Homo sapiens: one gene and its partner. The protein of the gene in region 1 interacts with the protein of each later gene in a pairwise test. Each region holds a gene or a part of one and is shown in the gene's direction. Other genes may lie near its edges.

Region 1 (7,592 bases):
AAGCTAGAGAGGACAAGTCAACACCTGGCTTCAAAGCTTCAAAAGACAGGCTAACTCTCTTGTTACAGGCTTATGCAGCTGTTGAAGCCCATGCTCACTTACCATCCTGAAAATCCTAGGACCCTGAAGAATGATGCTAAATCTAGTCTGCCTGTGTTCTATAAATGGAACAACAAAGTCTGGGCTAAGAAAAAAGAAGATTTCTTTCAAAATATTACTGCTCATTGAAAATGTACCTGGTCACTCAAGAGCCCTGAGGATGAAGATGTACAAAGAGATTAACATTGTTTTCACGCACAACATGCTGCAGTCATCATTCTGCAGTCCACGAGTCAAGGAGTAATGTCCACTTTCAAGTCTTATTTAAAAAAATACATTTTATAAGGCTATAGTTACCATAAATACCGATTCCTCTGACAGATCTGGGTAACATAAATTGAAAACCTTCTTGAAAGAACTGACCACACTAGATGCTATTAAAAAGATTTGGTGATTCATGGGCCAGGTGCGGTGGCCACGCTTGTAATCCTAGCACTTTGGAAGGCTGAGGTGGGTGGATCATGAGGTCAGGAGTTCAAGACCAGCCCGGCCAAGACGGTGAAACCCCGTCTCTACTAAGAATACAAAAATTAGCCGGGTGCGGTGGCAGATGCCTGTAATTCCAGCTACTCGGGAGGCTGAGGCAGGAGAATTGCTTGAACTGGGGCAGCAGAGGTTGCAGTGAGCCAAGATCATGCCACTGCACTCCAGCCTGGGCAATAGAGACTCTGTCTCAAAAAAAAAATTGGTGATTCATGCAAGGAGGTCAAAATATCAATATTAACAGGAGTTTAGCAAAAGTTGATTCCAACTCACATGGATGACTTTGAGGGGTTGAAGATCAGTGGAAAAAGCCATTGCAAATGTGAGGAAAACAGCAAGAGAACCAGAATTAGAAGTAGAGCTTGAAGATGTGACTGAACTGCTGCAATCTCATGATAAAACTTGATCAGATGATGAGTTGCTTCTTGAATGAACAAAGAAAGTGGTTTCTTGAGATGGAATCTACTCCTGGTGAAGATACTGTGAATATTGTTTAAATGACAACAAAGTCTTTATAATATTTTATAAATTTGGTTGATAAAGCAGCAGCAGAATTGAGAGGACTGATTCCAATTTTGAGAGTTCTTCTGTGAGACAAGTGTTATCAAACAGTGCCTTCTGCTACTGACAAATCTTTTGTGAAAAATTTCTGCAAAAAGGAAGCTGGGATTTTGATAGGAATTGTGATGAAACGCTACATCAACTTGAGTATTGCCATCTGACCAATATTGACTTCAAATCATTAAATAAGAAATGTCTATTTATTTAGATCTTTAGTATTTCCAACAATATTTAATACTTTTCAGTGTACAAGTGTTACACTTATTTTGTTAGATTTATTTCTTTTTGATGCTATGGTAAATAGAATTGTTTTCTTAATTTATTTTCAGATTATTCATTGCTATAATAGACTAGAGCATATTTTTGTATATTGATTGCTATGGACTATGTCCCCCAGATTTCATATATTACAGCTCTAAACCTCAATAAAATGGTATTTGGAGATGGAATCTTTGGGAGATAATTAGGTTTAGATGAGGTCATGATGGTAACAGTGGCCTTATAAAAAGGGACACCAGAGATCTTGCTCTCCACCCTGACCCAACCCCAAGCACACACGAAAAGAGGTAAATATGAGCATACCATGAGAGGGTAACCAGTATAAGCCAAAAGAAAAAGCCTCAGAATGAAATCTGTCTTGCTGGCTTTGGTCTTAAACTTATCAGCCTTCAGAACTGTGAGAAATACATTTCTGTTGTTTAAGCCACCTCATCCATAGTATTTTGTTATGGCAGCCTGAGCTGACCCTGATAGATCACGTATAATGTAACTTTGCTGAAGTTATTTGTTTTAATTGTATGTATGTGTGTATTCCTTAATAATCCTATATAAAAGATTATGCAACTGTGAATAGAGATAGTTTTACTTTTTCCTGTCTCTTCTGGATGACTTTTATTCATTTTATTTTCTTGCCTAATTCCCTTAGCTAATATTTCCAATATATTGTTGGATAGAAGTGGTGAGAGTGGAAAAATATTTGTCTTGTGAATGATCTTAGCAGAAAAGAATTGCCTTTCACTCTTAAGTATGATGTTGTGGGGTTTTTCTAAGCATCTTTATCAGGTTGAAAAATTTCTCTTCTTTTCCCAGCTTGTTGTGTGCTTTTATCATGAAAGCATGTTGAAATTTGTCCAATGCTTTTTCTGCATCTATTAAAATTATCATATAGTTTTTGTCCTGTATTCAATGGTACATTAGATTAATTGATTTGGGGATGTTAAACCAACTTTGTATTTTTGAAATAAATATCATTTATTTGTGGTGTATAATTTTTTTTTCATATGCTACTGAATTTGGTTTGCTAGTACTTTTCTGAGTATTTTGTGTTTATTAATAAGGGATATTGGCCTGAAGTTTTATTTTCTTTTTTCTTTCCTTTTTTTTTTTTTTTTTTGTGAGACGGAATCTTGCTCTGTCACCCAGGCTAGAGTGCAATGGCCCAATCTTGGCTCACTGCAACCTCTGCCTCCTGAGTTTGAGTGATTCTCCTGTCTCAGCCTCCAGAGTAGCTGAGATTACAGGCACACACCACAAGGCCTGGCTAATTTTTGTATTTTTAGTAGAGAGAAGGTTTTGTCATGTTGGCCAGGCTGTCTCAAACCCTTGACCTCAGGTGATCCTCCTGCCTCAGCTTCCCAAAGTGCTGGGATTACAGGCATGAGCCACCAGGCCCAGCCGAAGTTTTCTTTTCTTGTTGATTTCTTTGTCTGGTTGGAATCAGAGTCCACACCTGGCTGAAGTTTTTGTTTCTTGTTGATTTCTTTGTCTGGTTGGAATCAGAGTAATACTTGCCTTATAGAATTAGTTGTTAATTGTTTCCTCCTCTTCTATATTTTGGAATAGTTTCTTAAGTGTTATTCTTTAATTGTTCAGTGGAATTTACCAGCGAAGCCATCTGGACCTGTGCTTTTCCTTCTGGATAGGTTTTTTTTTTTTTCTTGCTAATTCAATTTCTTTAATTATGTTAGATCTAGTCAGATTTTTCTTTATGCCTTCTTGAGTTGATTTAGGTAGTTTGTGTTTTTCTAGGAATCTGGCCATTTTATCTACTTTATCTTTTTTAAGCATAGTTGTTCATAGTATTCCTTCTTATTCCTGTTTATTTCAGCAAGGCTATTAGTGATGGTTCTTTTATTCTTGCTTGTATTAAATCTTCTCTCTTTTTTTTCTTAGTTTCACTAAAGGTTTGCCAATTTTGTTGATCCTTTTAGGGAACCAATTCCTGGTTTCATTGATTTTCTTTATTGATATTCTGTCTCCTTCTTTTCTAATCTTTAATATTTCCTTTCTTCTGTTTGCTTTTGGTTTAGCTTTCATTTTTTCTAGTCTCATGCCTCTAATGAAAGGCCTCATCTCTTCCAACTCATTCTCTTCAACTGTTGCCTAAGTTGTTTGTATATCTGAAACATAAATTTGATGGTGTCACTTAGAAGCTTAAAAGTCTTCTCATTGTTCCCATTCCTTAAAAAGTAAAATTCAAATTTTGTATAATGGCAAACAACACCTTTCATAATCTTAACCAGTTTACCTTAACAATCAAACCCACCTTTCCAATCACATAAAATCACCTGGAATTTATATATACATTTTTAACCTCTTTTCCTTTGTACTTGTGTTTTCTCAATTTGTTCTTTTCTCCTACTGACTTTTTAGAAAGTCACCCACGCTTTTTAGTTATTTCCTTTTCCCTGGTACCATCACACTTTGCATCAACTTCTTTTAGAACAGTTACCAAATTATTTATTAATACACGCCTTCTTCATTATTCTTTGAATTCCAGGATGTGAAATCCCATTTTAGAAATTATGTCCCAGTAACTGACACATAGTGAGTGGTCAGTGTTTGTGGAGGTAGGAAAAAGTGGTATGGTCTGATATCATTTCATCTGGAAATAAGATGATGTATTTCAGCCAGTGAAATCGAAAAGAGCGATGGAAAATGACCTCACACTCCATAGGGCTTTGGTTCGTAAGACACAGAGAATACTGATATCCTTGTGCGAAGAACTAACTTGCTGTTGAGAGATCAATTCAGAGGATGCTCAAGCTCCGTTATCACTTTCATTTTACTAAACTGAGAAAGGAAGGTTGAGGAATGCATCAACGGTTAAGCACAGTGCAGGTTCCTACAGCGACTGGAGTTTTTTGGTAGTTGGGAGTGTTTCCCTCAATCTTTGGGCAAGCCGTCAGCAGTGGCAGGAACAGGAACAGACAGCTGGGAAACCCTTTCTTTCCCCAATCGTCTTCTAGCTTAGCTTTAGGCTTGTATGCCCATCGCGCATGCGTCAATTTTTCTCTTTTAAGATGGGCGGGGCAGAGTCTTTGCTCCTTTGGCGATCCTGAAGGGGTGGAGCTAAGCTGTTTCCAGGGTGACAGAGTGGCGACCTCGGTGGTCGATTGAGCAGGTCTGAGAATTGTTCCCAAAGGGTTGTGCGTCACCGAGTCGTTGGCGCTGTCATGGCGGGTGTGCTGAAGAAGGTGAGACGAATGGAGGTCACTGTTGGAATTTAGACTGTGGGGGTAGACTCAGTCCGATAGCCCTACTTCCCGCGGGTGTTGACCCCTACTGTCGCGGGCTCGGCGGTGCTTTTCGGGGACTCGTTCTGCATGCCTTACCGGGTAGGGCAGGTTAGTGGTTCCGCTCCGAGAGTCAGGAAAAAAGCTCCAAACAAGCGAGACTGAGAGACCAGTAGCTGGCTTTAGACCAGTTTTAGCCGGGGGATTCGTGGTTTTGTATTTCCTTAGCGTGCTGGATGTATGGAAACCGTAGTAAACAGCATGAATCGTGTTTTGTTTTTGAACAGACCACTGGCCTTGTGGGATTGGCTGTGTGCAATACTCCTCACGAGGTATGTACCTTTGTTCTTTCTTCGTTCTTGAATTCCCAAGGAAGACTAAATTCCTGTCACTTTGCTTATTGCAGGGTTAACGGGATACAGATGTTTCAAGCCCTTAATTACAAGCCGCGTGAGCTCTTGAGACACGGGCGCTGTCCACCTACTTCGTTGATCCGATGTCACATTTTTATTTATTTTTGCCATGACCTCTTTATTAAGCCAGTTTTCTTGTTGACTTTTTCCTTGACATTTTCATGGCTTCACTTGTGCTTGCTTCTGTCAGCGCCATCTCAAATTTATATCTCCGTTTTCCATCTTTTCTCCTTGCCTTACCGTTTCTGCTTAGGTGCGTTGGATTACATATATTTAGGCTTACTAAAGGTACTGCCCCCTTTTCCTTCTGTTAGGTCTTTTCCATCTGTATTCACGAATGTTTTCATCAAAAAAACCCACAAAATTTTTTTATTCTTCTTGTCCCTTCTATAATCACACCATTTCTTTGCTTCACTTTACAGATAACTCAAAAGAGTTATCTCTATTTTCTCCAATTTCTTTCTTATTCACCCTTGAATGCACTCAGTCACCCTTGGCGTTTTTCAAGTTCACCAATTATCTCCATGCTGCCAAATCCAATGGTCAGCTCATATTTCTCACCTTCATTGACCTAATAGCAGCGTTTTTTGACACATTTGACACTTTTTCCATCACGCTCTTTTCAAGTTCACCAGTTATCTCCATGTTGCCAAATCCAATGGTCAGCTTATGTTTCTCACCTTCATTGACCTAATAGCAGCGTTTTTTTTTTTTTGACACATTTGACACTTTTTCCATCATGCGCTTTCTTTACTGGGCTTCAGGACTCCCCCAGTCTCCTGATTTTTTCCCCCTACTCTTTGGCTTTCTCTTTTTCTGGTTATTTCTCTTATGCCCACTTTTAAAATTTGAGTTAGTCAGGATTTAGTTCTTGGACCTTTTCTTTTGGACCTGTACTCTGTCACCAAGAGAGAGCAAATCCAAATAGAGAACGGTTTTAAATACCACCTATACACTGACAACAGATTTCCATGTAAAGCACTGACCTCTTCCTTTATAAAAGTCCTGAATATTTAATTGCTTAGTGGGCATCTCTATTTGTATGTGTCAGACAGGCAACCCAAACTTAACATGTCCAAAATGGGGTTCCTGATCTTCTGCCTAAAACCTGCTCTTCTCTCAGTCTTGCTCATCTCAATTAATGGCAGCTCAATTATTTTGACTCAGGTCAGAAACTTGAAATCATCTTTGATTCCTTCCTTTCTCTTACACTCCACATTTGTTATTTCAGTAAACCCTCTAGGTTCCACCTTCAAAATATATCTTGATTTTGACAACATCTCACTACCTCCTCTGCTACTACCCTCTTCCTCAGTCACCATCATCACTGATGTGGATAATTGCATTCACTTCTTAACTGCCTCTCAATGCTTGTCACAGCCTCCATTTGGTCTTTTTTTCCAGCCAGGCTACTAGAGTTAGTCTGTTAAAATATGAGGTAGGTCAGATCTCTCCTTTCCTTAAAACTAATGGCTTTCCATTTCACTCTAAATAAAGACAAGTTTCTTACTGTGACCCTCTGGTTCACTATTCTACTGATTTATTTTGTTATGTCTCTACTAGAATGTAGGTTTCATGAAGGCAGGGATTTGTAATTGTTTCACTGCTAGAACTCTGTCACATAGTATGTGCTCAGTAAATAGTGTTAGTTGAATGAGTGTCTTGCACTTCCTATGATTTCATAATAACTTTATTGTCATTGATGTAAAGAACTGAACTCATGGTTTTTCCCTTCTAAATATATTTCTTCCTCTGTGGGCTGTATTTTTCTTGATAGTTTCAGATCTTTCTACTCCCTAGGCTGGGAATTTGGACATCATAGTTGGTATTTCTCTTATACTTGTACTCTCATATTCATTCCAATGATGATTTTTATTTTTATTTTTTTTGCTGATCCTTTTCTATAACAGCTCTCCAGTCTGACTTCTGTTTACTATTTCTATTGTTACTACCATAGTTCAGGTCCTTGTTCTTGTTTAGAGAATTGCAACAACCTCCTTACTGGCCTTTCTGCCTTGTTTCTCCTTCAGTCCTTTTAACTCACTACAATGAAGCTAATTTTCCTAATCTAATCATATGATTTTCCTAAATCTTTTAATTGTCCACAGAATAAAGCCCGAATGCTTTAACTTGGAATGCAGAACCACTTATAATGTGACATTTTCTCTAACTTTATCTCCTATGCATTTCCTTATGTGTCCTGTACAGCAGTATATTCCAAAATCCCCAGTGGATGTCTGAAAACCACATATAGTACCAAACTGTATATATGCTATGTTTTGTTTCATACATACCTATAATAAAGTTTAATTTATGAATTAGGCACAATAAGAGATAAGCAGGCTGGACGTGCTGGCTCACGCCTGTAATCCCAGCACTTTGGGAGGCTGAGGCGGGTGGATTGCTTTAGCCCAGGAGTTTAAGACCAGCCTGGCCAACATGGCAAAACCCCGTCTCTACAAAAAATGTGGAAATTAATCAGGTGTGGTGGTGTGCACCTAGTCCCAGCTACTCGGGAGGC
Region 2 (7,026 bases), on another chromosome or scaffold:
GAAAAAACACCACCTGTATTAGGGCAGCTTTAAGGATAGAATATGTATATATAAGGCATTCACACAATGCCAAACACAAAAGTATATGCTTAGTAACTAGAAGCTGCTCTTACCATCTTTATCTGGAGAGAGGATATGACTAAAATCGTGAACTAACTGAGCTGTTGATACATTTCCAAAGTAAATTTCTTCCATTGATTTTACATACCAAGAAAATAAGTAAAATTCTAACACTGGGCAAATAGAGCAAAAACATTGTTACCTGAAACAATTAGTTTTCTTAGTATAACTGTGTTATCTTCCTTTAATGTTGGTATGTGCTAGATCCCTCTGATTACCTTTAATGGTTGTTTAAAAATAATTAAAATTTTTTTCTTTTTCAGAGATGGGGTGGACTTGCTTTGTCATTCAGGCTGGAGCGCAGTGGTATGATCATAGCTCACTGAAACCTCGAACTCCTGAGCTCAAGTGATCTTCTCACCTCAGCATCCTCAGTAGCTGGGATTACAGGCATGAGCCACTGCGCCTGGCCCAAATTCTTAAATTAGATAGAATATGAGCTCCCCTGGGCTGGGCACGGTGGCTCACACCTGTACTCCCAGCCCTTTGGTTCGCTAAGGCAGGCGGATCACATGAGGTCGGGAATTCGAGACCAGCCTGATCAACATGGATAAACTCCATCTCTACTAAAAATACAAAATTAGCAAGGCACGGTGGCGCGTGCCTGTAATCTCAGCTACTTGGGAGGCTGAGGCAGGAGAATCACTTGAACACGGGAGGTGGAGGTTGTGAGCTGAGATTGCGCCATTGCACTCCAGCCTGGGCAATGAGAGCGAAACTCTGTCTCCAAAAAAAAAAAAAAGAGCTCCCTGAGGGTAGAAATTATGACCTTTTTTTTTTTCTTTTTTTTCTTTTTTCTTTTTTTTTTTTTTTGTGACAGAGTCTCACCCTGTCGCCCAGATTGGAGTGCAGTGGCTTGATTTTGGCTCACTGCAACCTCCGCCTCCTGGGTTCAAGGAATTCTCCTACCTCAGCCTCCCAAGTAGCTGGGACTACAGATGCATGCCACCACACCCGGCTAATTTTTTAATTTTTATTAGAGACGGGGTTTTACTGTGTTAGCCAGGATGGTCTCACTCTCCTGACCTCGTGATCCACCCACCTTGGCCTCCCAAAGTGCTGGGATTATAGGCATGAGCCACCACGCCCAGCACGATCTTTTTCATTGTTATGTTTCCAGTGTTTAGTAGAGCTCTTGGTGTTTAATAATTGTTTACTGAATGAAAGAATGAAAATCAACTTTACCATGAACATTAGTCACAGTTCCTCCTATCTCTTTATTCCCTTTCGTATCTGTTATGTTGGCCTCTGTTTTTCTCACATTTATTTATTTTTATTATTATTATTATTTTTGCTGTTGTTAGTAAGAAACCTCACCAGGAATTTCTCACATGTCTTTATTTTGTGCATCTATTTCTACAAATTGACCGTCCATATAGTGCTTATTTTAATGGCTCTGTAATCTGTATTCCCATTATAGTTTACTTAGCTTTTCTCCAGGTGTTAGGCACTCTAGCATTCACTTTTATGAGCTGTCTTGCTATAGACATCTTTATAAATATTTCTCCGCCCTCTAAATTTTTTCCTTGGGCTACATTTCCAAATGAATCAAAGAGCATAGATGGTTCAATAGATCCACTCACTTAGATCATTACCTAATTTTTAATCTTTATCCACAACACATTATAAATGATGATAGCTTAAGAATTATAATAGTTTTATGGATTTTTTTGTGCTCTAGTGATCATACCGTGATTGATTTTATTCTAACCTCCTCCCAGGGTATATGAGTGTAACAAACGCTGCAAATGTGACCCAAACATGTGCACAAACCGGTTGGTGCAACATGGACTACAAGTTCGGCTACAGCTATTCAAGACACAGAACAAGGGCTGGGGTATCCGCTGCTTGGATGACATTGCCAAAGGCTCTTTTGTTTGTATTTATGCAGGTTGGTGATAAAATATAAGGGTTGTTTCCTGAGACTGGGACATGGTAGGGAATTGAACCAGAGACAAATTGAACATAAGAAGAAAGTGCTTGACATGTGAACTGGAGTAAGAGGAGGCCAGGGACTTCTACAAAGAACGTGATGAGTGATGTACCTGTCTAGCTAGACCAGAGAGGGACACAAGTGTTTCACAAATAAGAGAATGAAAAGGGATGAAATTTTGGACATGGTGATATTTCAGAGAACAGACATGATTATAGAGTCCAGTGTATCATTTTCTCCCATGTCACTCCACTCAGAGATCTTTTAGCATAGCCCAGTACTCTGTTTCAATAAAGTAGAAGAAATGGAAAGACAGAAAGGGCAAGATTTAAAATGACAGTAAGTTCTCCATACTTTCATAGTTAAGATACAAAGGGAGGTATTATCAAAGAGAAACACTGGGCCGGCGTGGTGGCTCATGCCTGTAATCCCAAAACTTTGGGAGGCCGAAGTGGGTGGATCACCTGAGGTCAGGAGTTGGAGACCAGCCTGGCCAACATAGTTGAAACCCCATCTCTACTAAAAATACAAAAATTAGCCAGGTGTGGTGGTGGATGCCTGTAATCCCAGCTACTTGGGAGGCTGAGGCAGGAGAATCACTTGAACCCTTGAGGCAGAGATTGCAGTGAGCCGAGATCATGCCACTGCACTCCAGCCTGGGTGACAAAAGCGAAACTCTGTCTCAAAAACAAAACAAAAAAAAAAACAGAAATGAGAGACCAGAATGGAGGCTTTTTGACTCTATATGCTGGTAGAGCGGGTATTGATGGAATAATCCTTATTCTTTCTAATAGGTCCCCGTGGCCGGGTGCGGTGGCTAACACCTGTAATCCCAACACTGTGGGAGGCTGAGGCGGGCAGATCACCTGAGGTCAGGAGTTCGAGACCAACCTGGCCAACATGGTGAAACGCCATCTCTACCAAAAATACAAAAAAAATTAGCCAGGCATGGTGGCGTGCACCTGTAGTCCTATCTACTCAGGAGGCTAAGGCAGGAGAATCACTTGAACCTGGGAGGCAGAGGTTGCAGTGAGCCGAGATCGCGCCACTGCACTCCAGCCTGGGTGACAGAGCAAGACTCCATCTGGAAAAAAAAAAAAAAAAAAGCAAACAAAAAAAAAAACTAATAGGTCCCCATAACCCTAGAAGGCCTTTAATTCTCTTCATTCTCAGGCAAAATCCTGACAGATGACTTTGCAGACAAGGAGGGTCTGGAAATGGGTGATGAGTACTTTGCAAATCTGGACCATATCGAGAGCGTGGAGAACTTCAAAGAAGGATATGAGAGTGATGCCCCCTGTTCCTCTGACAGCAGTGGTGTAGACTTGAAGGACCAGGAAGATGGCAACAGCGGTACAGAGGACCCTGAAGAGTCCAATGATGATAGCTCAGATGATAACTTCTGTAAGGATGAGGACTTCAGCACCAGTTCAGTGTGGCGGAGCTATGCTACCCGGAGGCAGACCCGGGGCCAGAAAGAGAACGGACTCTCTGAGACAACTTCCAAGGACTCCCACCCCCCAGATCTTGGACCCCCACATATTCCTGTTCCTCCCTCAATCCCTGTAGGTGGCTGCAATCCACCTTCCTCCGAAGAGACACCCAAGAACAAGGTGGCCTCATGGTTGAGCTGCAATAGTGTCAGTGAAGGTGGTTTTGCTGACTCTGATAGCCATTCATCCTTCAAGACTAATGAAGGTGGGGAGGGCCGGGCTGGGGGAAGCCGAATGGAGGCTGAGAAGGCCTCCACCTCAGGACTAGGCATCAAGGATGAGGGAGACATCAAACAGGCCAAGAAAGAGGTAAGCAGTGGCAGAACACTCTGAGAGCTATGGCTTTAACTTTGGTGCAGTAACAATGCAGTCTCACCATGAGTCTTTGCATGTAGATTATTCTACTTGATGGATATTTCTGTGGCCACCTCGTTATCTCTCCCCCTAACTAGCACATTCCTAGTGTTTGTTTAAAGAACCAAATTATTGACCGGGCACAGTGGCTCACACCTGTAATCCCAACACTTTGGGAGGCCGAGGCAGGTGGATAACTTGAAGTTCAGGAGTTGGAGACCATCCTGGCCAACATGGTGAAACCCCGTCTCTACTAAAAAATACAAAAATTAGCCGGGCGTGGTGGTGCATGCCTGTATTTCCAGCTACTTGGGAGGCTGAGGCAGGAGAATCGCTTGAACCTGGAGGGTGGAGGTGCAGTGAGCCGAGATCGCACCACTGCACTCCAGCCTGGGTGACAGAACGAGACTCTGTCTCAAAAAAAAAAAAATTATTTTAAAATCCACTTGCCTGGTGGTAGAGGGTGGACAAGTATCTGATTAATTACAAAATGAAAGATTTATAAGTGATTTTTTAATGTTAAATGCTGTTTCAAGTTATTCACATCATTGTTTCCTTCTACTAAAGTAGAGAAACAAGAATTGATTTTAAGTATCTCTTTGATGATTATGCTGCTTTCCACATTACAGATGGTGAAACTGTCCCTGGTTGATGTAATCCTGCTCGTGGTGTTTTCCATGAGCATTAAGCCCCATCACTGAGAAGGCTTAAAGGCTCCAGCCAGGGAGTGTAGTGAGGATTTCTGTCAAGTTGCAGAGTGGTTTACCCACCCCACTTTAGAATGTGTACCTGTCACTGGCTGATGTTATCTGTGGAGGTCATTTGAAGTCTGATTATTGGACTTGTTACCCGAGGCTGTGAAAGCATTTAACCCTTCACTTGTTCTTTTCCAGGACACTGACGACCGAAACAAGATGTCAGTGTAAGTGCCTTTTGTTTTGTTTTGTTTTGAGACAGAGTCTTGCTTTGTCACCCAGGCTGGAGTGCAGTGGCGTAATCTCAGCTCATTGCAACCTCCCCCTCCCAGGCTCAAGAGATTCTCCCACCTCAGCCTCCCTAGTAGCTGGGACTACGGGTGTGCACCACCATGCCTGGCTAGTTTTTGTATTTTTTGTAGACACGGGGTTTCACCATGTTTCCCAGACTGGTCTTGAACTCCTGGGCTCAAGCGATGCTCCCAAAGGGGATCCTCAGCCTCCCAAAGTGCTGGGATTACAGCCATGAGCTACCGTGTCCAGCCCAGTGCCTGTCTTTTTGACCTGTCTCCAAATCTGCCTTCTCTCAAACCTAGGCTAGAAGCCTAAGAAACAGCCAGTAACCTGTTGGCTTCATTCCTTCCCCTCCCATTAGAGTTACTGAAAGCTCTCGAAATTACGGTTACAATCCTTCTCCTGTGAAGCCTGAAGGACTTCGCCGCCCACCTAGTAAGACTAGTATGCATCAAAGCCGAAGACTCATGGCTTCTGCTCAGTCCAACCCTGATGTAAGTCACCTCAAGCTTATTCAGAGTCTAATAAAGGAAAATGGGCCATTGTCACCTCATCAAGTCCTTCACTATAATTACTGTTAGGTCTTCTCCTACTTCTTTAGCCTTGACTTCCTGCCTTATTTTCTTTCATCCAGCATCTAATCTTCCTCTTGCCACCGCCCTTTCCTGCCAAACCGTGGGTAACAGCAAGGACTTAAAGGAGCCCTTCCCATTTACTTCTCTTACTTCTTACCCTCCTGCTTCCCCAGGATGTCCTGACACTGTCCAGCAGCACAGAAAGTGAGGGGGAAAGTGGGACCAGCCGAAAGCCCACTGCTGGTCAGACTTCGGCTACAGCGGTTGACAGTGATGATATCCAGACCATATCCTCTGGCTCTGAAGGGGATGACTTTGAGGACAAGAAGAACATGACTGGTAGCCTGGAAAAATTTTGGGAATGGTGGGAAGAAATAGTAAGAAACTTGGGATAGAGCATTTTTTAAGGAAGCTAAAGAAGTAGTGGGTAAAAATTCAGATCCTAAGAATTGGAGCATCTCTGGGAGGGCTTTCTGACTCCAAGCTAAACTATTGTTTGACACATCCTCTCTCATTTCCATTTTTTTACTCTTTCCCCTCAGCTCCTTTGTCTAGCAGATCTAATTATGCTTGAAAAAAAAACCTGCTACTTAGGATCTTTGAGTTCCAGCTTATTGGTGTTTCTCAGCTGCAATGTTGGGAGAGAAATAGGGGTAGAATGTCCATTCATGATAGAATGTCTGTTCATGAGTTGGGATGGGTCCTGACCCCATTCTCCCTCCTGTCCAGGTCCAATGAAGCGTCAAGTGGCAGTAAAATCAACCCGAGGCTTTGCTCTTAAATCAACCCATGGGATTGCAATTAAATCAACCAACATGGCCTCTGTGGACAAGGGGGAGAGCGCACCTGTTCGTAAGAACACACGCCAATTCTATGATGGCGAGGAGTCTTGCTACATCATTGATGCCAAGCTTGAAGGCAACCTGGGCCGCTACCTCAACGTGAGACCCCTCTCCCCACCTCTAGATGCTGGATTATCCCATGGTCCTCAGATTTCTTTTAACATACTCTATAAGCCCTTTTCTTGTTATAAACTCTTGATCTCAAAGGATCTTAAAGAGGTAGCTTTCTTTCAAAGCATCTATTATAATGGGGAGGGTCAGATGGCATCATTTTTCTTCCAACTCTCACTCTCCCTGCAAAGCCAGGTTCAGTTTCCCTGGTTCTTATTTGATCCTGTCCTTAAACCTACAGCACAGTTGCAGCCCCAACCTGTTTGTCCAGAATGTCTTCGTGGATACCCATGATCTTCGCTTCCCCTGGGTGGCCTTCTTTGCCAGCAAGTAAGGAGTCAGGAAAGGGGATGACTGGGGAGGGGCAAGGACCACTGAAGTTCTAAGGGCCCCTCCTCCATTCATGATCCAACTCCACCTACATATTCAGTAACCCCAAGTGCCTGGGTTATCTGCTGTCTTTGCCACACACCATCCTTTTCTTCCTCTTCAGAAGAATCCGGGCTGGGACAGAACTTACTTGGGACTACAACTACGAGGTGGGCAGTGTGGAAGGCAAGGAGCTACTCTGTTGCTGTGGGGCCATTGAATGCAGAGGACGTCTTCTTT

What was found. The genes of interacting proteins can lie anywhere in the genome.
Region 2: the proteins of NDUFA5 (region 1) and SETDB1 interact in binary tests that used the Homo sapiens proteins (3 or more experiments, as listed by UniProt).

The regions. Positions count from the first base shown.
Region 1 is NC_000007.14:123,554,802-123,562,393, reverse strand, and holds the start of NDUFA5 (NADH dehydrogenase [ubiquinone] 1 alpha subcomplex subunit 5), read left to right. Parts: upstream 1-4,575; 5' UTR 4,576-4,598; coding exon 4,599-4,619; exon of another isoform or gene 4,620-4,748; coding exon of another isoform or gene 4,749-4,769; intron 4,770-4,945; coding exon 4,946-4,990; intron 4,991-5,074; exon of another isoform or gene 5,075-7,592. UniProt on the Homo sapiens protein: Accessory subunit of the mitochondrial membrane respiratory chain NADH dehydrogenase (Complex I), that is believed not to be involved in catalysis. Complex I functions in the transfer of electrons from NADH to the respiratory chain.
Region 2 is NC_000001.11:150,957,337-150,964,362, forward strand, and holds part of SETDB1 (histone-lysine N-methyltransferase SETDB1), read left to right. Parts: intron 1-1,841; coding exon 1,842-2,011; intron 2,012-3,226; coding exon 3,227-3,855; intron 3,856-4,793; coding exon 4,794-4,822; intron 4,823-5,250; coding exon 5,251-5,383; intron 5,384-5,637; coding exon 5,638-5,803; intron 5,804-6,193; coding exon 6,194-6,405; intron 6,406-6,658; coding exon 6,659-6,747; intron 6,748-6,910; coding exon 6,911-7,026. UniProt on the Homo sapiens protein: Histone methyltransferase that specifically trimethylates 'Lys-9' of histone H3. H3 'Lys-9' trimethylation represents a specific tag for epigenetic transcriptional repression by recruiting HP1 (CBX1, CBX3 and/or CBX5) proteins to methylated histones.